4 separate regions of the Homo sapiens genome follow, and regions 2, 3 and 4 are each linked to region 1. The links come from fine-mapping of genetic effects on gene expression. A gene starts in region 1. Each other region holds a variant in brackets. All regions are shown on one strand. Distances are between the middles of the regions.

The links.
Region 2: its variant is fine-mapped to the expression of CAV2 in whole blood (INTERVAL, PIP above 0.99).
Region 3: its variant is fine-mapped to the expression of CAV2 in lung (TOPMed, PIP 0.96).
Region 4: its variant is fine-mapped to the expression of CAV2 in whole blood (INTERVAL, PIP above 0.99).

Annotation. Positions count from the first base shown.
Region 1 is chr7:116,496,633-116,502,222 of GRCh38, forward strand. CAV2 (caveolin 2) reads left to right here and starts at 3,106. Exons shown (of 3, transcript NM_001233.5): 1 at 3,106-3,299; 2 at 3,628-3,815. The coding sequence starts at 3,150. CAV2-DT (CAV2 divergent transcript) reads right to left here and starts at 2,884. Exons shown (of 3, transcript NR_188012.1): 1 at 2,722-2,884. RefSeq lists enhancers at 2,121-2,622, 2,669-2,808 and silencers at 2,989-3,078, 4,863-5,157.
Region 2 is chr7:116,407,523-116,413,112 of GRCh38, forward strand. No RefSeq gene overlaps it. Among named protein-coding and RNA genes, the nearest start is that of CAV2-DT, 89 kb to the right of the region's middle. The variant A/G (reference allele first, on the strand shown) is at 3,170.
Region 3 is chr7:116,445,407-116,450,996 of GRCh38, forward strand. All of the region lies in intron 1 of CAV2-DT (CAV2 divergent transcript), which reads right to left. Among named protein-coding and RNA genes, the nearest start is that of CAV2-DT, 51 kb to the right of the region's middle. RefSeq lists a silencer at 3,028-3,355. The variant A/G (reference allele first, on the strand shown) is at 3,261.
Region 4 is chr7:116,336,417-116,342,006 of GRCh38, forward strand. LOC105375463 (a long non-coding RNA gene) reads left to right here. Exons shown (of 7, transcript XR_001745336.2): 7 at 704-792. LOC124900233 (a long non-coding RNA gene) reads left to right here and starts at 797. Exons shown (of 3, transcript XR_007060487.1): 1 at 797-878; 2 at 3,407-3,503. The variant T/TTCTC (reference allele first, on the strand shown) is at 3,228.

The DNA of each region.
Region 1 (5,590 bases):
TTCCCTTTCCTGGTAAATTTTCCTTTATGTTCATAAGGACAGATGCCATTGCTGTGGGAATCACTCTGGTTTAAGCCTCTTGAGAAAAACAGTAGCTAACTATATTAGTCCGTTCTCACACTGCTATAAAGAAATACCTGAGACTGGGTAATCTATAAAGAAAAGAGGTTTAGTTGGCTCACAGTTCCACTAGCTGTACAGGAAGCATTATGATGGCATCTGCTCAGCTTCTGGGGAGGCCTCAGGAAACTTACAATCATGGCGGAAGGTAAACAGGGAGTATCACCTCACGTGGCCACAGAAGGAGCCAAAGAAAGGTGAGGGGGAGGTGCCACACACTTTTGAAGGACGAGATCTAATGAGAACTCACTCACTATACAGTACCAACTGCGGGGTCGGGGGGCAGGGGTGGCAGTGGGGGTGGTTGCTAAACCATTCCTAAGAACTCTGCCCCCATGATCTAATCTCTACCTCCCACCAAGCCCCACCTCCAACACTGGGGATTACAGTTCCACATGAGATTCGGGCAGGGACACAAATCCAAGCCATATCACTAACCTTATCTAAATACTGGCCAATAGGATAAGCAAAATCATTTTTATAGCTTCCTTCAAAAAATCTTATGTATTAAAATGTTGAAATGTATAAGAATTTCATCAAAATAAGAACCTCACCAGATCTGACCCAAGGGAGAGAAGATTGTTCAATAAAAAATTACAAATGGATGAATAAATGAATCCTCTCCTTTCAAGTTCTGTGCTCCATACAACAAATCTAGATGGGTCTCATTTAGATGGGATTTAGAGACACCTTTCTTAAATACCTATCATTTTACGAATGAAGCTGTTGTCTAAAGAGTCCTCTTGGCCACTTCCTGAAAACAAATCAATTATTTGTGATAACTCTCAAATGTCCTAATAATCCCATGGAAAATGTAAATGTAATGAGGACCAAGAATTATAAGGTAAGAAGTGCTAATGTCAGATTTTTACCCACTACATAAGCCCACTCTTGTACTAGGGCAGTGACTTTCTTCTTTGGGTGAGACCTTGAAATCTGGGATTATAATTTTGAATTATAATTATAAAATGGTATTTGGCTGTAAATTATCTCCTTTTTTTTTCTGTTCCTCACAGTTGATATTATGGATTCCCATAAGGATTCATGTCTTCTATTCACTTTAATGAACAGTTGTTGGGCAACAATTCTAGAAGAGTTCCAATTCTCATCAGGAGAATGGACAAGGTGGAGAAGCAGAGAAAATGCAATGAGTAGAATGTCTAAGTCATCACTTTGGAATTGACTGAACATAAATAAAAATGAGAAAGATACGTAAAAAAGAAGGGAATGGGTAAGCAGGGTGATGTCTGGGAGAGGAGGGGCTCCATAGCCATGAGAGTCAACTCTGTAACACCCTATAGGGTTACAACACTGCCCTTCATATACTGAGGTAGCAGCAGGGAAACTTTTTAATTATTAGAAATATTGAACTTTGCCTCCCACCCCCAAACATTTTTCTCATTCAGTTCCTGTTCTTTTTTATTTCTGTAATTTTTACTGTTTCAAAAATGATCTTTTTTCTTTCGGAAGAAGCAATTCTTCAAATCCAGTTCACATAAGGGGATTTGATATGTTCAACAAGCTCCAAATACACTGTATCCAGCAATACCTACTACATGCCTACTTTGAGCTCTGAGCAACCTGCACCTCAAGCCTAGTTCTCATTGTTTTGCTTTTGGCAAATTTTCACTAAGTGCCCTTCCTCCCCAAACACACGTATATGTCTACCAGACCCTAAAGCCCTTTATGAACATGCAAACTCCTCCCTTCTGAAAACCTTTGCGTGAGTGGTCAGCAGGCTAATTCATCCATTGCAATGTGGCTTTGTGTTAGGGTTCTGTTTCCGTGCTGCCTGCAAGATAATCACAGATGTGACTGCATCTTAGAAGTTCCTGAATCTTTCAAGACAGTCTGGTTCACAAGAAAATTAAAAGGTGGAGGTCGGGCGCGGTGGCTCACGCCTGCAATCCCAGCACTTTGGGAGGCCGAGGCGGGCGGATCACCTGAGGTTGGGAGTTCGAAACCAGCCTGACCAACATGGGGAAACCCCGTCTCTGCTAAAAATACAAAATTAGCCAGGCGTGGTGGTGCATGCCTGTAATCCCAGCTACTCGGGAGGCTGAGGCAGGAGAATCGCTTGAACCCGGGAGGCAGAGGTTGCGATGAGCCGAGATCGTGCCATTGCACTCCAGCCTGGGCAACAAGAGCGAAACTCTGCCACACACACACAAACACACACACACACACACACACGGTGTAGTTTAGGAAGTAAAAAAAAAAAAAAAAAAAAAATCAGATCTCCCCTCACACCTCAGATCTGAAGGCACAAACTCTAGGGCCAGGGCGTTCGCCTACCCAACTCCACATGCACTTGCAGGTCACCTAGCACTCAGGTACCTAGCACTCAGGTACATTGTGGCTCCTTACCTCTCACGACAGCAGCAACAACGTTGATTGGAAGTTTATCACTGTGTGTTACGGGCCATGGGCCATGTGTGTTAGAATTTTATGTGAAATTAACATTTAATTCTCACGGACACCCCTGAAACAGATGCCACAGCCCCCATTTTGCCAACGAGGCAGCTGAGGTTCCCAGAGGCTCAATACCAGCACCATGAGCCGCAGCACGCAAGGCAAACACAGCCGGAGGTGAGCACATACCTGCTTCGCACCCCATGCGCCTAACCACAAGGTTCCCTCCCTCCAGGAAGGCCGTTGTCTTCCCTGGGACGACTTGCCAGCTCTGAGGCATGACAGTACGGGCCCCCAGAAGGGTGACCAGGAGGCCCTCCTCGTCCCAGCTGCCGGCGTCGCCGCCCACTGCAGGGCCCGGGCTGTGACTCGTGGGGACGGTTCCCTGCGCCCCGGCGGGGGAGGTGGGCGGGGAGGGGCGGCGGGGCGCCGGGGCGGGGCTCGGGACGGCCGGGCTGGGAGCTGGAGCCCACAGCGGGAAGCGGCCGCCGCCCGGGCCTCGCAGGGCTAGGCGAGGCGAGGGGGGGCGGGGCCGGGCGCTACGGGAAGGGGAGGCCGCGCGGACCGGGAGCCGCACCGCGCCAGCCGGGCTGCAGCGGCCGCGCACCAAGGCTGCGATGGGGCTGGAGACGGAGAAGGCGGACGTACAGCTCTTCATGGACGACGACTCCTACAGCCACCACAGCGGCCTCGAGTACGCCGACCCCGAGAAGTTCGCGGACTCGGACCAGGACCGGGATCCCCACCGGCTCAACTCGCATCTCAAGGTGAAGCCCGGGGCGGGCGGGCCCAAGTCCCCGCTGAGGCCGGGAGGTGCGGGCGCCCCTCAGCCCCGCCCTAACCCGTCCCACCATTGCTACCGGGTCGGCCCCGCAGGGTCTGAGACCCGCACCCTTCCCCGGTCCCACCCGTCACCAGGCCGCCCGCGTAGCCAGGAATTCTTAGCCAGGTTCCTGTGCGCCCACCGTGACCCTAAGAGAAGAGGCGGACGCCCTGGCACGTCCTTCCCTCCTGCTTCCCCCGCCCAAAGCGCTCCCGGTTCCCGGGGCGTCAGGTTGGCTGACAGTTCGGGGTCCCTGCGTCCTGTCTCCTCAGCTGGGCTTCGAGGATGTGATCGCAGAGCCGGTGACTACGCACTCCTTTGACAAAGTGTGGATCTGCAGCCATGCCCTCTTTGAAATCAGCAAATACGTAATGTACAAGTTCCTGACGGTGTTCCTGGCCATTCCCCTGGCCTTCATTGCGGGAATTCTCTTTGCCACCCTCAGCTGTCTGCACATCTGGTGAGACGGGGCACACCGGGTGGACCGGCTTTCTGAAACATGGGCATATTCTCCGCCACCTGCCCCCTACTCTCCTCTTATCCCAGGCCGGCGTCAGGAGGAGGAACGCGCATCAGTTCCCAAGCAGTAGGAAGAACTGGAAGGCCTTGAAAGGCAATGCGCTTCCTTTAGAATAACAGTTTGGGCTTGGAGTTTCAACAGGAGAAAGAATGTCGGTCTTTCCTGGGGTGTGATTTTCCTTGCATACATAAGGCTGGGCTGAGTGTGGAGGCGGGTACCTGGAAGCCACACTTCTTACCACAGGCTGCTCTCGGGGCCCTGTTGTGACTCGTACCTGCGGTTCTGGGCAGGACTCTTCTTTCTTTCATTGCCTTTTATTCAGTCACTGCCTGTGCTTGGGGTAAAACAAAAGTGATCTCTGAGCAGAATGCCGCTGACAGTAGAATTGGATGAGGATGTCAGACCTGGTTAAGCAGTAGTGTGGAGGGGCTGCTTCAACTTTGCCCCTGGCAGATGGCAAGGATGGGACCCAGAGGAAAGGGAGGTGTGTGCAGTTAAGGCGAGGGTCCCCCCCAGTACAAACGAATGAAAACTCCAGCTGCGGGATAATGAATGAGAAGGCCTCCAAATTACTTTTTCACTGATGAAACACAAATGGAAGTGGCATATAATTAAAGGGGAAAGAAATATGGAAGCCCACTGTATATTGATAGGATATTTTGAGTAACTCTATTCATACTCAAAATGTGTCCTAAACTGTAGAGAACTTTCTTAAGCATCTTTTAAATTTTTTATGGAAAATGTCATATTTTACCAATAAATGTTGTTGTGTTAGAAAATATCCACTTTAATCTGAGAGGAAGAATATTCAGATCATCCCCAGTATCACAACAGTTGTCACGCTAGTGCTTCAGGTTAGTCCTGGTGAAAGGTATAACCCAAGGTACCTCCGTGTCTTTCTTACACCTTTTATGATATTGCCACACCCTGATAAATACTCGGTGTTCATTGTTAGAAGTTACCAATTTATCCTTTATTTCTCTATACCACCTGAATCTTAATTTATTTAGTCAGTTAGCTAGCTAGTTAGTTCAACAAACTTTAAATTGATTGAGTGCTTAGTTTGTGCTGGGCACTGGGCCAGGATGAATGAGAGATAGGGTCTGCCTTCAGCTTACTCACAGCCTTATCAGGGCAGCTGGCTAGGTACAGAGATGGACGCTGAGAAAACACAGTCAACTGACAAAGAGGGAGGAACAGACAAGGCTTTGAAGAGTGAAAGGAGTCGAAAAAGACTTTGAAAGGATAAATGAAAATTCACCAAATACGTAAAGGATACACAAAGAACACCAATTTAATTTTATCACTAAAGGTTGTAAACAATTAAACTATGTTGAAGGTGCCAAGATTGCCAGGGAAATGAAAATGTTGCCTTAGTACATGATCAGCTTCATGAAGGTCAAATGGATAGTTATATTCTGACATTTGCACTTGAATTTTTTTTAAGATCCCTGAGTTGGCACATAAGATTTGGGATTCCCAATTAACTAAAACTAATCATCTAACCTCTATGTCAGTTTTCTCACTTTCAAAACTGTGAAAAACTGAGTGACCGCATAGCATATTGTGAAATGCTGACTATGAAGCTATTTGGAAATGTGAAGTACCATATTTATAGTCAACAAAGCTAGGCTTCCCAAAGCTTTTGTGAAAGAATTTGAAAAAAAAAAGTTTCTCATTTACTAAGTGGTGGAAAGATATAAGTAAAACTACAA
Region 2 (5,590 bases), 89 kb before region 1:
ATCAGGAACATCCATTGTGGAACTTCTGTAAGCAAAAAATATACATTTCTGAATGTTGAGTCATAAAATTTCTGGATTACTTTTTTTTTTATTATACTTTAAGTTTTAGGGTACATGTGCACATTGTGCAGGTTAGTTACATATGTATACATGTGCCATGCTGGTTTTTTAATAAAGGCAAGTACTATTGTTATTTACTCTAAATAATACATGAGCAATGCTTCAGAGGTCCTCTTTGTAGCTAAGTCTTTCTGCAAATACCTAATTATTTACTTAGAAAATATTCTTGGAAGTAGAATTTCTGGTCAAAGGGTATGAACACTTAAAGTTTTTGAAATTGCCTTCCAGAAAGCTTCTGCATTATTTAAAAACCCTACCAGCAAGTCAATGAAAATTTCCAAAACAACTCGCTTCATTAGAATTTAACCATATTTTCTAACATAGATAATTTTGTAAGGAATTTGCTAGGCTCTTGTGTCAGCAATTTTACTAATTATTTATATGTCTTTAAGTCTATGTAACATACCCATCTTTCAATTTGTTTCAAAGATCAAATGTCATGGAATATTAACAGTACATATTTAAAATATTAAAAAATATAAGGTAATACAAAAATAAATTAGATACAAATCTAATTTCATGTATGTAAATGTAACAGTTATACATAGTAACAAATTTTATTCTGCCTTGAAAAGATTATCTGCTAAAACCTTGGCCATATGATCTTTAATTAGATTGTTACTTTGCTGGGTTATCATAGCAGCATTAGTTACTTAACAATACAGATGTTTCCTTTTTGTAGTTTTTATTGGCTCAAGATGAACACAAGCTTTAGTTCAAACAAAAGTGAGAGAGTGCAATTTAAATGAGGAGGTGATAGAATATGCACTAGAAGAGAAAAGGAGATAGATGTGTCGACTGTTTGTTTTGTTTTCTTTTGAAAATTGCTGCGTCTCCACTCCTGGTTTGACACTTGGAGTCCAGAAACTTTCCAACTGTGTTGAACAGAACTTCTGTCTCCCCTTGGGAGCAGCAGCAAGCCAGGGTAGACCACAAGTACCAATGAAAATACCTCATCCTATTTATACTGGGTCACATTTCCCCATTTTTGACAGATAGAACCTTTGGAGAAGAATATTAATGACCATTGGGAGATGACACTAGTCATTTAGGGAAACACTCAATAAATAGGCAAGTGATACTTCACACAGGGACTCCCTAGATTTGCAAAATGCTTATACCCCAGAGGAAGCTTTTCCTGGAGATGTGATAATTTCTTTTTTAGGATAATAAAGCTTAATTCTGTAGAACTACCAGACAAAGCAAGACAGTCCACTAGGGAGGAGCCAAGATGGCCGAATAGAAACAGCTCCGCTCTACAGCTCCCAGCGTGAGCGACGCAGAAGACGGGTGATTTCTGCATTTCCATCTGAGGTACCGGGTTCATCTCACTAGGGAGTGCCAGACAGTGGGCACAGGTCAGTGGGTGCGCGCACCGTGCGCCAGCCGAAGCAGGGCGAGGCATTGCCTCACTCAGGAAGCACAAGGGGTCAGGGAGTTCCCTTTCCTAGTCAAAGAAAGGGGTGACAGACGGCACCTGGAAAATCGGGTCACTACCACCCGAATACCGCACTTTTCCGACAAGCTTAAAAGACGGCGCACCAGGAGGTTATATCCCGCACATGGCTCGGAGGGTCCTACGCCCGTGGAGTCTCGCTGATTGCTAGCACAGCAGTCTGAGATCAAACTGCAAGGAGGCAGCAAGGCTGGGGGAGGGGCGCCCGCCATTGCCCAGGCTTGCTTAGGTAAACAAAGCAGCCGGGAAGCTAGAACTGGGTGGAGCCCACCACAGCTCAAGGAGGCCTGCCTGCCTCTGTAGGCTCCACCTCTGGGGGCAGGGCACAGACAAACAAAAAGACAGCAGTAACCTCTGCAGACTTAAATGTCCCTGTCTGACAGCTTTGAAGAGAGCAGTGGTTCTCCCAGCACGCAGCTGGAGATCTGAGAACGGGCAGACTGCCTCCTCAAGTGGGTCCCTGACCCCTGACCCATGAGCAGCCTAACTGGGAGGCACCCCCCAGCAGGGGCAGACTGACACCTCACACAGCCCAGTACTCCAACAGACCTGCAACTGAGGGTCCTGTCTGTTAGAAGGAAAACTAACAAACAGAAAGGACATCCACACCAAAAACCCATCTGTACATCACCATCATCAAAGACCAAAAGTAGATAAAACCACAAAGATGGGGAAAAACAGAGCAGAAAAACTGGAAACTCTAAAAAGCAGAGCGCCTCACCCCCTCCAAAGGAACGCAGTTCCTCACCAGCAATGGAACAAAGCTGGATGGAGAATGACTTTGACGAGCTGAGAGAAGAAGGCTTCAGACGATCAAATTACTCTGAGCTACGGGAGGACATTCAAACCAAAGGCAAAGAAGTTGAAAACTTTGAAAAAAGTTCAGAAGAATATATAACTAGAATAGCCAATACACAGAAGTGCTTAAAGGAGCTGATGGAGCTGAAAACCAAGGCTCCAGAACTACGTGAAGAATGCAGAAGCCTCAGGAGCCAATGCGATCAACTGGAAGAAAGGGCATCAGTGATGTAAGATGAAGTGAATGAAATGAAGCGAGAAGGGAAGTTTAGAGAAAAAAGAATAAAAAGAAATGAGCAAAGCCTCCAAGAAATATGGGACTATGTGAAAAGACCAAATCTACATCTGATTGGTGTACCTGAAAGTGATGGGGAGAATGGAACCAAGTTGGAAAACACTCTGCAGGATATTATCCAGGAGAACTTCCCCAGTCTAGCAAGGCAGGCCAACATTCAGATTCAGGAAATACAGAGAACGCCACAAAGATACTCCTCGAGAAGAGCAACTCCAAGACACATAATTGTCAGATTCACCAAAGTTGAAATGAAGGAAAAAATGCTAAGGGCAGCCAGAGAGAGGTCAGGTTACCCACAAAGGGAAGCCCATCAGACTAACAGCGGATCTCTCGGCAGAAACCCTACAGGCCAGAAGAGAGTGGGGGCCAATATTCCATATTCTTAAAGAAAAGAATTTTCAACCCAGAATTTCATATCCAGCCAAACTAAGCTTCATAAGTGAAGGAGAAATAAAATACTTTACAGACAAGCAAATGCTGAGAGATTTTGTCACCACCAG[A/G]CCTGCCCTAAAAGAGCTCCTGAAGGAAGCGCTAAACATGGAAAGGAACAACCAATACCAGCCGCTGCAAAATCATGCCAAAATGTAAAGACCATCAAGACTAGGAAGAAACTGCATCAACTAATGAGCAAAATAACCAGCTAACATCATAATCACAGGATCAAATTCACACATAACAGTATTAACTTTAAATGTAAATGGACTAAATGCTCCAATTAAAAGACACAGACTGGCAAATTGGATAAAAAGTCAAGACCCATCAGTGTGCTATATTCAGGAAACCCATCTCACGTGCAGAGACACACATAGTCTCAAAATAAAAGGATGGAGGAAGATCTACCAAGCAAATGGAAAACAAAAAAAGGCAGGGGTTGCAATCCTAGTCTCTGATAAAACAGACTTTAAACCAACAAAGATCAAAAGAGACAAAGAAGGCCATTACATAATGGTAAAGGGATCAAATCAACAAGAAGAGCTAACTATCCTAAATAAATATGCACCCAATACAGGAGCACCCAGATTCATAAAGCAAGTCCTGAGTGACCTACAAAGAGACTTAGACTCCCATACATTAATAATGGGAGACTTTAACACCCCACTGTCAACATTAGACAGATCAACAAGACAGAAAGTCAACAAGGATACCCAGGAATTGAACTCAGCTCTGCACCAAGCGGACCTAATAGACATCTACAGAACTCTCCACCCCAAATCAACAGAATATACATTTTTTTCAGCACCACACCACACCTATTTCAAAACTGACCACATAGTTGGAAGTAAAGTTCTCCTCAGCAAATGTAAAAGAACAGAAATTATAACAAACTGTCTCTCAGACCACAGTGCAATCAAACTAGAACTCAGGATTAAGAAACTCACTCAAAACCACTCAACTACATGGAAACTGAACAACTTGCTCCTGAATGACTACTGCGTACATAACGAAATGAAGGCAGAAATAAAGATGTTTTTTGAAACCAACGAGAACAAAGACACAACATACCAGAATCTCTGGGACGCATTCAAAGCAGTGTGTAGAGGGAAATTTATAGCACTAAATGCCCACAAGAGAAAGCAGGAAAGATCCAAAATTGACACCCTAACATCACAATTAAAAAAACTAGAAAAGCAAGAGCAAACACATTCAAAAGCTAGCAGAAGGCAAGAAATAACTAAAATCAGAGCAGAACTGAAGGAAATAGAGACACAAAAAACCCTTCAAAAAATTAATGAATCCAGGAGCTGGTTTTTTGAAAGGATCAGCAAAACTGATAAACCGCTAGCAAGACTAATAAAGAAGAAAAGAGAGAAGAATCAAATAGATGCAATAAAAAATGATAAAGGGGATATCACCACCGATCCCACAGAAATACAAACTACCATCAGAGAATACTACAAACACCTCTACGCAAATAAACTAGAAAATCTAGAAGAAATGGATAAATTCCTCGACATATACACTCTCCCAAGACTAAACCAGGAAGAAGTTGAATCTCTGAATAGACCAATAACAGGAGCTGAAATTGTGGCAATAATCAATAGCTTACCAACCAAAAAGAGTCCAGGACCAGATGGATTCACAGCCGAATTCTACCAGAGGTACAAGGAGGAACTGGTACCATTCCTTCTGAAACTATTCCAATCAATAGAAAAAGAGGGAATCCTCCCTAACTCATTTTATGAGGCCAGCATCATCCTGATACCAAAGCCAGGCAGAGACACAACAAAAAAAGAGAATTTTAGACCAATATCCTTGATGAACATTGATGGAAAAATCCTCAATAAAATACTGGCAAACCGAATCCAGCAGCACATCAAAAAGCTTATCCACCATGATCAAGTGGGCTTCATCCCTGGGATACAAGGCTGGTTCAATATACGCAAATCAATCAATGTAATCCAGCATATAAACAGAACCAAAGACAAACACCACATGATTATCTCAATAGATGCAGAAAAGGCCTTTGACAAAATTCAACAGCCCTTCATGCAAAAACTCTCAATAAATTAGGTATTGATGGGACATATCTCAAAATAATAAGAGCTATCTATGACAAACCCACAGCCAATATCATACTGAATGGGCAAAAACTGGAAGCATTCCCTTTGAAAACTGGCACAAGACAGGGATGCCCTCTCTCACCACTCCTATTCAACATAGTGTTGGAAGTTCTGGCCAGGGCAATTAGGCAGGAGAAGGAAATAAAAGGTATTCAATTAGGAAAAGAGGAAGTCAAATTGTTCCTGTTTGCAGATGACATGATTGTGTATCTAGAAAACCCCATTGTCTCAGCCCAAAATCTCCTTAAGCTGATAAGCAACTTCAGCAGTCTCAGGATACAAAATCAATGTACAAAAATCACAAGCATTCTTATACACCAACAACAGACAGAGAGCCAAATCATGAGTGAATTCCCATTC
Region 3 (5,590 bases), 51 kb before region 1:
GAGGGGTAAGACACACGAAGAGTAAGCAAGATGCCCCCAAAATTCCATTTCACGGTATTGCCTCTAGTCGTCCTTATCCATTCATCAAATAATTAAGGTATGAACAATATATAATTAAATAATTTTGGCAAAAGGTGAGTTTCTGTTATTATACAAAGGCTTAACTAATAATGTGAGTCTTAAGGTTTCATACTATGAAATGCTAGAAAACATAACAGACGTTCTCACACCTTTCTCAGTTTCTATCTTGGTGCCTCTATTAATACACGAAAATAATGTGCTTCCCCTTTACAGCCATGAAAATCATATTGAAAATGATGCATACTAAACAAAAAGATACTGTGTCCTTGAAGAATCAGGCCATAAACAAGACTTCTTTTGGCATTCACTAGAAAAATCTCAAACTCATGAGGACCTTTTTCCAAGGCCATCTTTTAAGTAACGCAAATTTGGAAATACATGAGAGGAAATAATTTGTTAACCAGCTGTCTTTCTTAAACATCTCATTAAACAAATTAATCCATACCAAAGGGGCTACCATACAAGGTCATAAATGAAACAAGTCTTGCATATTTGTCACTAGGGCAAAAGATACAAAAGAGATAAAATTCTGGGAACAAACTATGCTGTTTAAACTCTCACAAACACTTTCTAATTAAAATTTGGAATAGAACGGAAATCAACAGTACTCAGTCATTTCTTTACATCAACTATATTTAGAATAGGACAAATAATGAAAGATTTAATAATGTTCATATGGAATGCATTGAGATCAGGCAGCTTGGAGAGGTTGGCTTTATAGACAAAAATACTCTATGATTCCACTTATATGAGGTACCTAAAGGAGTCAATTTATAGAAACAGAAAGCAGAATGGTGGTCTCCAGAGGCTGGGAGGAAACGTGAATGGGGAGTTGTTTAATGGGTATAGAGTTCGTCTTGGAAGATGAAAGGAGTTCTGGAGATTGGTTGCACAACAATATGAATATACTTAACTCTACTGAATTGTACATTTAAAAATGGTTAAGATGGCAACTGTTCTATTATGTGTATTTTACCACAATTAAATTTCTTTAAAAGAGAGAAAAAATACCTCAGTTGTTTCCTGTAATATTCAGATAGAATTCTGGAGGAAAGATCGTCTAAGTCCTAGTTATGTTAGATCCTTCAAGATCCTGTCCCTCCTTACGTCTCCCTCTGATGACGTCTCCCTTCAGCACTGACACTCTGTACTGCTAGCTGTACTGGAAAGTTCCTAGATGGCAGTTTTTTTCTCAAACTCTGACTCCCAGAACATTTTCTACTTTTTCCCCTGGGAGATGATGGGGGATTTACCCTGAAGCTAAGGAAGCTAAGACAGCAGGGCACTTCACCACCATTCTCTTCCAAAGCCATGTACTTAATTTTTTTCATTTTATTTTAAACCACTCCCTCTCTCCCCACATACACAAAAAATTTGTATAAGCTTCAGACCCCACTAAACTTGCATCCACCTCTGCCAAGGTGTCTTATATATATAGTAGGATATCCCTTCCTCCAGGACATAAGCATCCTGTCCCAAACCCCCTTTTGGTGATGTGTGTATTGTCACATTGTTTACGTATTGTCACAGACACTGGATTGTACTTACCAGCCTTCCAAACCAAGCTGTGTGTGTTTTCTAAGGAAAGGGATTTTATTTGTCTCTCTACTTCAGTTCCTGAAACATAGTACAGGATAAGTGTACAAGAATTGATTTAAGTCAGTTCACGAACTGACTTAAGAAAGCTGGCAGAAGAGTCAGGACTAAAATCGAGTCTTTAAGTTATGGGTACGCAAAGGCAGACAGAGTGGTATAATGGCCATTGGAGACTCAGAAGAGGGAGGGTAAGAGGAGGGCGAGGGAAGAAAATTACATATTGATTACCACATACACTGTTCAGGTGGCAGGTACACTAAAATCTCAGATTTCACCACTATACAATTCATCCATGTAACCAAAAATCACTTGTTCCCCAAAAGCTATCAAAATTTTAAAACTCTTTTTAAATAATTAATATAATAATAATAATAAAATCGAGTCTTTAGTATTTCCCCTACCCCTAACTCATCTTTTCTTCTTTGCCTAGTTAGGGGCACACAAACTTCCCTCTTAGAAATATAGGGATTTGCTTGCTATGCAAAGTAAACATTAAACAGGTTTAACTAGACAGCTCAAGTTTTATGAAACTAATCTTTATGTCAAGACACTGAAGGCAACTTAATAAAAACAGGGATTTAGATATGAATAAACTATATACAAACTTGACGTCCTACTTGAAGAAAAAGTAAAAGTTGGGCTCAGTATTTCTGTCTGCATACTGTGCAAACAATTCCTAAAATACAAATCATACCTCTAAAGTGAAATAAGGAAAAGTTCCTCATACTGAAAAGCTCCCTCAGAATGCATTTTAGATCCTCAAAAACTTAAGGACAAGTTCATATGTAGGTATTTCTGTGTGCTTACACAGGATTAATACTTTTGAATCATTAACAAGTCAAATTAGTAAGAATAAAAATAAACAATATTAATGTGTACTTAGTATGTCAACATTTTGCTGTTTTCCCATGCATTATTTTATTTTAGCCTCTTGATGTCTCTATGAGGTAAGTATTATTATTATTATTATTCCCATTTCACAAGCTTTGAGAGAATAAGTCAAGTGTTCCAGGTCACCCAGCCAGAAAGGTATTAAGCCAGGACTGGCACTCAATGCCTGGCCTCCAAGCCAAACCCTTTCACCATTAAGCTGCATTATCTCTCTTTTTTTGAAGTTATCTTTTCCAAAGGCCATTTTCAGTCCAGGACAAAGCAGTGAGGCCGGCTGGGGCATCAGGGCACTCCCTGAGCTCACAAAGGGATAATGAGAATATTCAAAAAGATCATCCTGCTAGAGATGAGTAAGAAAACAGGGAGATATAAATTTTATGTACTTAAAAAATGAATCATGCAGACATTGCCTGAGTTATAAGCAACTATTTCAGGCTAGATGAATTTTGTGAAATAAAATTTTGGGGACCTTAAATTGTGTATATATTATAGTTAAGTTGATCCCTGAGTTTTAATTTACGGGTATATTTTATTTAGAATCACAATTGTTTTTATAATACAATAATAACAAAACCGTCACTCTGAATAAACAGGAATATATGTTTATGTTGTACAGTAACTTGTTCCAAGGAGTTATTAAAACTGTAAACCAGACTTTACAGAAGGCAGAGGCAAAAGGAAAGCATGTTGCT[A/G]TCTTATCCTGCAGTGCAGATGAAGATATCAAAATGGGGTATTGCCTGCCAGGTGTATTGTAAACTGTGATTGGAAAAGGAGACAAAATAAGGAATCAAGATATCATGCCAATGCTTTAAAAGAAAGTGCTTTTGTTTTCAATATTTTTAAGGTTAACAGAGTGAAAAGACTGAATTAAAATCAATGGTCAGTTCTTACATGCTTCTTCAAATTTCCCAAACCATGTGTTTGCCTTCTCTATTTGCTATCTCAGAGAGTTTTGAATTAGAACCACTTTCCTTCCTAAATTTAAAGCAGTAATAAAATGTTAAACTGCAGAAATGAAATGATTATGTATATGTATATGTGTATGTATATGTATATGCATATGTATATAACATAGTTTCAGTAGTACATTACTGAAAACATGAAAGCCTAACTAGATAATTACTGGTACAACACATTTCTTCTGTTGCACATGTACCGGGAAGAAAATCAAATTCAAAAGGAGTGGTGCAAGATGGTGGACTGAGCACATTTGTTTATCCTCTTTTCTTCTCTAGATCTTTTCAAAAGTAAAGATATAGAGAAAACATAGAATCACAAAAAAGAAAGAACTGGAGATGGACTATCAGCAAATAAGAGTTTTAAATGAAGTTACAGGAGGCAAAAAGTAGAATGAGGTGGGATAACTAGTGAAGTTATCCAGAAAAAAAGTCACAGCCCAGAATGTGTTCGTTTTCAACTCTTGAAAGTCAACCTACGTATACATCAGAAAGGTGTTAATTATGGGTGTAGAACAGAATGCAAATGCTTTTAAACTTGACGTGTATACGTGAAAGTATAAGTGATGTAAATTAGGAAATGGAAACAAGGAAGAAAGTTTAAAACAAGAGTTTAAATTAGTTTAAATCACTATTGTCCTTTTATGGACTGAGAAGCCTAGAGATACTGTCTATTATCAGTAGATACACAAATAGCCAAGAAGTCATAAAGTACTGCTAGAACAGTGCTATAACAAAGCTGGAGGGTGACGGTGGGGGTAGCAATGGTGTGGAGGACATAACACTGCTAAATCTCCATCGATTACATCAGAAAGTCAATAAATTACACCAAAGTGCAAAATTAAGAAATAGTGGCATAGTATACATAGCATGTAGATTTATGAAGTTGAGGTATGAAAGAAGTTTGAGACAGAAACACTTAGGGAAAAAAAAAACTGTTGTCTCTGGGAAACAGAATTACATGTAGGAGAAGATGGGGCAAGGAGCTAATGTTATTACAAATTTTTCCATATTTTATTTTTTTAAATGGGCATGTATTATGTTTGCAAAATTCTAAATGCATATAAGAAAAAATAAAAGCCTTCAAACATCTCTGTAGGTTCAGCATATCAATTTACGTTTGATACGCATGGTGGGGAAGTAAGGCAAATGCCTGAAAAATGCAGAACCTGCATAGAAAGAATGTAGAAGTTCCTATTTAGGACTGTGTTATGACATGGTGATGTCTGTTTCTATTCCGGCCAATAAATCCTGGCAGTTGGTCAATTGTTATCCTGTTAAAAGGTCTGGAGTGGAAGAATGGACTGTGTTTTTCGTAAAAAGCTTGCTGACAAGACCAGAGAGAGTTTCCACTGGCAATTCTATTTCACAGTCCTTTCCCTTCTTTGGGCAACACAAATGATGGCAATGGGCAACCACATGGCCTCTAAAATCTTTTCCTTCACTCCTCTGAGTGCAAATCTCTACAGCACAGAAATGCTCTGGATAGTTCTGTGCTTCTGTGATTGGTAATATCCCTTGGACATGTTTAAGAACTATAGAAGCAAAATAGCTTGATTTTCCAGAACACGGCATCTTCACGATATAGCATCTACTAATTTAAGATAAAACGGTTTCATAGATCCAAAAAGGTAGAAAAGTTCCAGTGATTCATAGAGTTAATTGGTCAATTATTGCCAATTAGAATTAGTCAGAAATATGCACACACACACACACACACACACACACACACACACACAGGACAAAACATATCTCTGCATAGTTCAACTTTGTTCCAAAAGGAAATAATAATCAATCCCTAAAACAACAGAAATGTCACTAGCCTGTCAAATCCTGGGTAGCACTCGGGCCTCAGAGAGTTAAATTCACGCCATATTAGGAAGGCATTAATTATTATTACAGAACAGAATGTAATAATATTACATTATTAATATACCAAATAATATTACAAATATTATTACAGAAAGTAATAATATTAAAATTGATATACTGAACCTATAATGTTATATAATTATTATTACATAACATTCTGTTTATTAGGTAAAAATGTAAATGATATAATTTGG
Region 4 (5,590 bases), 160 kb before region 1:
CCAGGCTGGTCTCAAACTCCTGTCCTCAGGTGATCCACTCGCCTTGGCCTCCCAAAGTGCTGGGATTACAGGCATGAGCCACCGTGCTCGGCCAGAATACACTTAATTCTTGATATAAACATAATTGAGTCTACTAAGTAAGATAATAGACAAGATGGTGTGTGTGTGTGTGTGTGTGTGTGTGTGTGTGTGTGTGTGTGTGTGTGTGTGGCTTACAGGCAGATATTAAAAAGCCAATATCAAAAAAGAGATTACAGATGTAGTTGGGTCCTTTCCGCTTTCCAAGGTTCCTACTTCTGTTCCTGCACCCTAAATTTTGTCTTCCCCATCTGCTCTCAGATCTTATTTCCTCTGTAACTTATTCTGATATATAAGTAGAGGAAAATGAAATGGGTCTAGAGTTCATGTTTAAAAAGAGAACAAAAGAAATATGGGTGCTAGTATGTCTCATGTTCTCAACTATCTCAAGCCATATGCTCAAAGAGAAGAAAAACCTGAGGAAAGTATCAAAACACTTGTAAAGCTCATTGTCTAGTATATTACATTTTTTAATTTTTTATTTTTAAGTACTATGGATATATAATAGTTGTTCAAATTTTGGGGATGCATGTGATATGCTGATACCAGCATACAACGTGTAATGATTAAATCAAGGTAATTGGGGTACTCCTCACCTCCAGCATTTATCTTTTCTTTGTGTTAGACCACCACCACATGTGCAGCATCCCTCTGGGTCTCTTCCATGACAACCCTGTGGGAAGCCAGGCAAGTGAGAATCAATGTAAACATGAAGTTCATGCTGCTTACTGTGTCGTGATAATGTCCTTGTCTCCCAATCAGGAGCCTCATGTCTTCTTGCCAGCCTCTGTGGAACTGTGGTAGGCTATTAAGTTAATTAGCAAGCAGGGTAAAGTCTCAGATCCTTTGCATTTTCTTTTAACCAGCTCTTTCTAGGTGAAAGACACATGGATATCACTGTGAAACTTCATGCTCTGTATAGCTCAAAATTTTGCCCAAGGGGAGGTTCCAGCACCATCTGATTAGTACATATTGCTGAGAAAAATACTAAAGGAAGAAAATACTAATAATAATATATTTCACTAACCCTCTTAGATATTAAGAAATGAATGAAAAGGTCTATATTATTGACTATTAATCACTTGGAATCTCTGTTGTTAAACTGAGAAGTAAACTGCATTGCCTAGAATATTGGCCATATTTTTAGTGATACTAATTAAATTGTTTGAGATAGATCTGAAGACAGCAGAAGCTTGTCTGGGCCTAGCTTCCTTGAATTCTTCTTCCCCGAATTGCTATGTCTTGGTAATTTTGAAATATGAGTTAGAAACCATCTACTTACCTAACTGATATCATTATTCCAGTTAATGTTTGTCCCAAGGTATTTCTCAAAGACTTAAGAAAAATGAAAATTCTATTTTTTAAAGGGCCTAGCTCTTTTAAAAGGATATGTTTCATGGAATTCTATTTATCAACAAACATGTAGACTACTTCAACAAGACTTCAATGTGATTTCATGTGTTTATTCTCCTGAGTCAGATGTGAACAATGTAATCCTAAAAGATTTTGGGGAATGGTGACATATGCTACTTAATTCACACTCATGAGCTTAAGAGAAGATAAGAGAATGTCATGCTCATGTGTGACAAAGATAAAACTATATTCTAACTAGGATTACAAGAATAAAACACCAGAAACTTGACAACTTGACATTTTTTCACAGTGCTTAAAAATAAATGTAATAAAACTTTGGCAGTTAATGTCATTTTGATTTGCTTTAATTTTATTTTCAAACCTCTATTATTGAAATAATAATTTCATTATTTCAAACCTTCATAGGAAAATAATAGAATTGTGCTGTTGTGTCAGTATAAGACATAGTCAACATTTTCTGCAATGAACAAGTAATGTTGAGATTAACAAGATTTCTCTTAATAAATGTTTTATACAAGCATAAGAAAAATGGATAGCACAAAAAATGGATAGCACAATAGGGTAACATTAGCACTTTAACAAATAAATCCCAACATTCTAATGGCTTAATACAATTGAATTTTATTTCTTGCTCATGCAACAGTCCAGCACAGGTGCTCATGGTCTGCTGCTGGGGCCACGATGCATCTGTCTCATGCAGTCATATAGAGACCCAAGTTGATAGCTGTGATGTGTTCTCCAAAACATGGCTTTAGAGGTTGCCATGGAAATCAACATCCAACTGATGGAAGAGGCAAGAGAAAGGATGCAAAAACCACACCAGCTGTTTAATTACCTGGGTCCAGAAGTAACAGGTGCCACTACCTCTCACATTCTATTAGTGGAAATTAGTCACATGGCCTCTCCTAACTGCTAGTAAGTATAGAAAAGTTGGTTTTGGCTGGGCAGCCACAAGACAAAGCTACTAAGAAAGACATAGCATTAATTTTATGTTGTTAGCCATCTCTGCTATAAGCGTAAGTCAAATAGAATTTTCATTTTTCTTAAGTCTTTGAGAAAAACATTGGGACAAACATTAACTGGAATATTGATATCCATTAGGTATGAGCTTGATTGTTTCTAACTCATATTTCAAAATTACCAGATATAGCAATTCAGGGAAGAAGAAAAAGGTTTAAAGACTGTGACATTCAGACTGCTATATTCAATACAGAAAAGATATTTGGTGATATTTCTATCCCTTTTTCTTAAATGTACATTCTTCTGGGATTTAATAAAGTCACATTCTGATTTTTAAAAATAGTACTATTAATCTCACTATAGAGCTCTGAAAATAATAGAATCGTGCTGTTATATTACAGCAGTTATTGATTGTCCATTTTTTCCAAAGACACTGAGATCTATGGAAGAAATAAGCCTCATTATTTTTCATTTGTATTTAATGTAGATGCAACAAAAGTTATATACTTCTTTATTATATATTTTGTCATGCCTATTAAATGCCAGTTATATAAGATGATTCCTGATCCAAACACAGTGCTTTATGTTATTGGGATTAAAAGAATTAGTTAAAGCTTTAAGTTAAATTACTTTTGAATTCATTTATGGCTAGGTACACATGAAATAAACACTCTACATTGTCTACAGTGGTAATTGCCAAGAAAAAGAGTATATTTTAGTAACAATTTGGCTAAGCGCCTCAAATTCAAAGTAATTCCACATTTAAATACTAACACTCAAACCTGAAAGTTGTCTTTAAAAGCTTTATAAATTGT[T/TTCTC]TCTGGTGAGGGTTTTACGACTATGGGGTGGGTGGAAAGGGGAGGAAGGAAGAGGGACTGCCTCACTATAAGCTGATAACAAGGTTGCTAAAAATTGCTCTTATCAATGGTCTTTGCACTTAACTTGTTTAAATAAAAGAAAAAACTTCATGTGAGTCATCGTATTTTGTTCACTACAGCTTGGCAGGTCACCTTGTTCTAGCAGATAGAAACTGAATCAATATGGGAAGAGCCAGAATTTGGACAAGGTTCACCAAACATTCACACTGATGCCAGGTGGGCCAAGAAAAAGGGAATGTCCTGCCTCTGAGGTATCTAAAAATTTTTATGTTTAAGTCAAGGGTTTTGTGTTGTGAAGGCAGAGCTTTGAATTTCTAATAGAAGAAGAAAAGCAGAATATACCCAGAAACTCCTGATTAAATTTATGGTCCTCTAATAATATTTTAACTTTAAAGGAGTCAGACGGCATTCTAGAAAAGAGCCCTTTGGTCAATGCTTTCCTATCTATAGTTTAATCAACCCTTCCATATATGCACATATTAAGCAAATTCAAATGACATTAAAAATAAGTTACATTTCTTATTCTAACCCCTGCCATTCATCCCGCTTTCCCCCCATTGTCACACATATGCCCACTTCCACTTCTGCACATAGGAAGAAAGGGTGAATAAATGTCAGAATCAAGTGGAAAGATTAATCATAGGCTGTTTTTTACATTGTTTTATTCTGAGTCAGAATACGCTTTACAGGACATAGGCAAGCACTTGAAATATAGGACTCAGAACATAAGATGCTTCGTAGGACCCAGGCAAGCACAGCAATTAAATGGAATTCCACATTTTTAAGGAAAGCTTTTTACTTTTCTTCCTCTTTTTGTTTCTCTTTACTTTTGCAGCTCCCTTCAAAAGTCCTTTCTGTGAGACACATTTTTAACTACCATATTGTTCAATTTTAACAAGAGTTCAGGGTGAGGAAGGTTATAGCTGAGGCATTTACAAGGATTTCCTGTTTGTAGTGGCTGCTTTTTCCTCTTTGGTAATGTGTTTTTCACATTTTTTAAAAGCTGCCTGTATGCATTAATATTACTTAATCTCCATCACCTTAAGAAACCATATGGGGCAGGGAGAGGAAGACCGGTGCTGGCTCTTTCCCTTTCTCAATGACTTGAGACACCTTAACCTTGCTTAACTTTTTCTAGAAAATGAAGATAGTAACACCTGCTCTGAATTGTCACAGAATTATTGTAAGGCTCAAATAAAATCTATGTATTTAAGGAATCAATATGTAATAAAGATCTTGAAGTGTTAGTAGTCGATTATATCTGAGATACATTCGCCAATATCCAAGGGGGACAAAGAGAGCTCCATACCCCGGGGGAAATGTAGTCCACTGACAATTTGTCCACACAATTAGAATACAAAATAGCACCCTATGCCTCAACTTTTTTACAGTCAAAGAAAGCATGAGGCATAAATAGTCCTGAAGGGATGTGGAGTCTGTTTGCTCTGCATATGATTTGCATATGCTCCTCTGAAAAGTCACCGGGCAACCGAGTAATTGTACAGTAATGATGTGGTTAAAAAAACAGATTGATCTACTTTTATTATTATTGTTACAAAATAATACATATATTTTTAAAATTCAAACGATACTAAAAGTTACATTCCCTGTCCTACTCCCTGTCACTTATACCATTTCCCAGTTTCTGTTTTTAGTTCTGATGGTTTCCTTTTTGCTCTCCACTGTGACTGATATACATTTATACTTCTATTTTTTGATGACTCAAGTTTCGATAGTATCTTCTCACTCCCAGTACAAGATATTCAGTACACAAAAGATATCCTTTTCTCTCCTGAGTTTCATTTTACGTGTGTATGAACACACAAACATGCTAACACACATGCTCACACAATCTTTTAGCTCTTGTATAGGTTCCTGAATTAATTGTTCAGTAGTATACTAAGCCTCTACTTCTGGTTTCCAATTTAGGCCCTGCATGTTGTCCAACACTAGCCCATCAGTGGGATTGTTTTACATTCAGGGCAGCTGCACTACTGCCTCCTTGGAGAACAGTGCCTCCTGGAGTTTAGCAGTGCACAGCCCTACAGATTAATGCAGGGGCCCTGATCATATTTGTATTTTGTTCCTGTATATGTTTAATCAATCTTTAGAATCTCATCTATAGTTGGTTCATTATTGCTGGGAAACAAACGGCATTTACAAAGTCAAATTTTAGTAATGTTATTCATTATATAAATGAATAGTATCTTTCTCTCCATATCCTTTACAAAGTCTTCAAAAGTTTCTGAAATTTCACTAGGATAAGTTGGTGGATCTTTTTCTCACCCATTCAGTACTTTGTG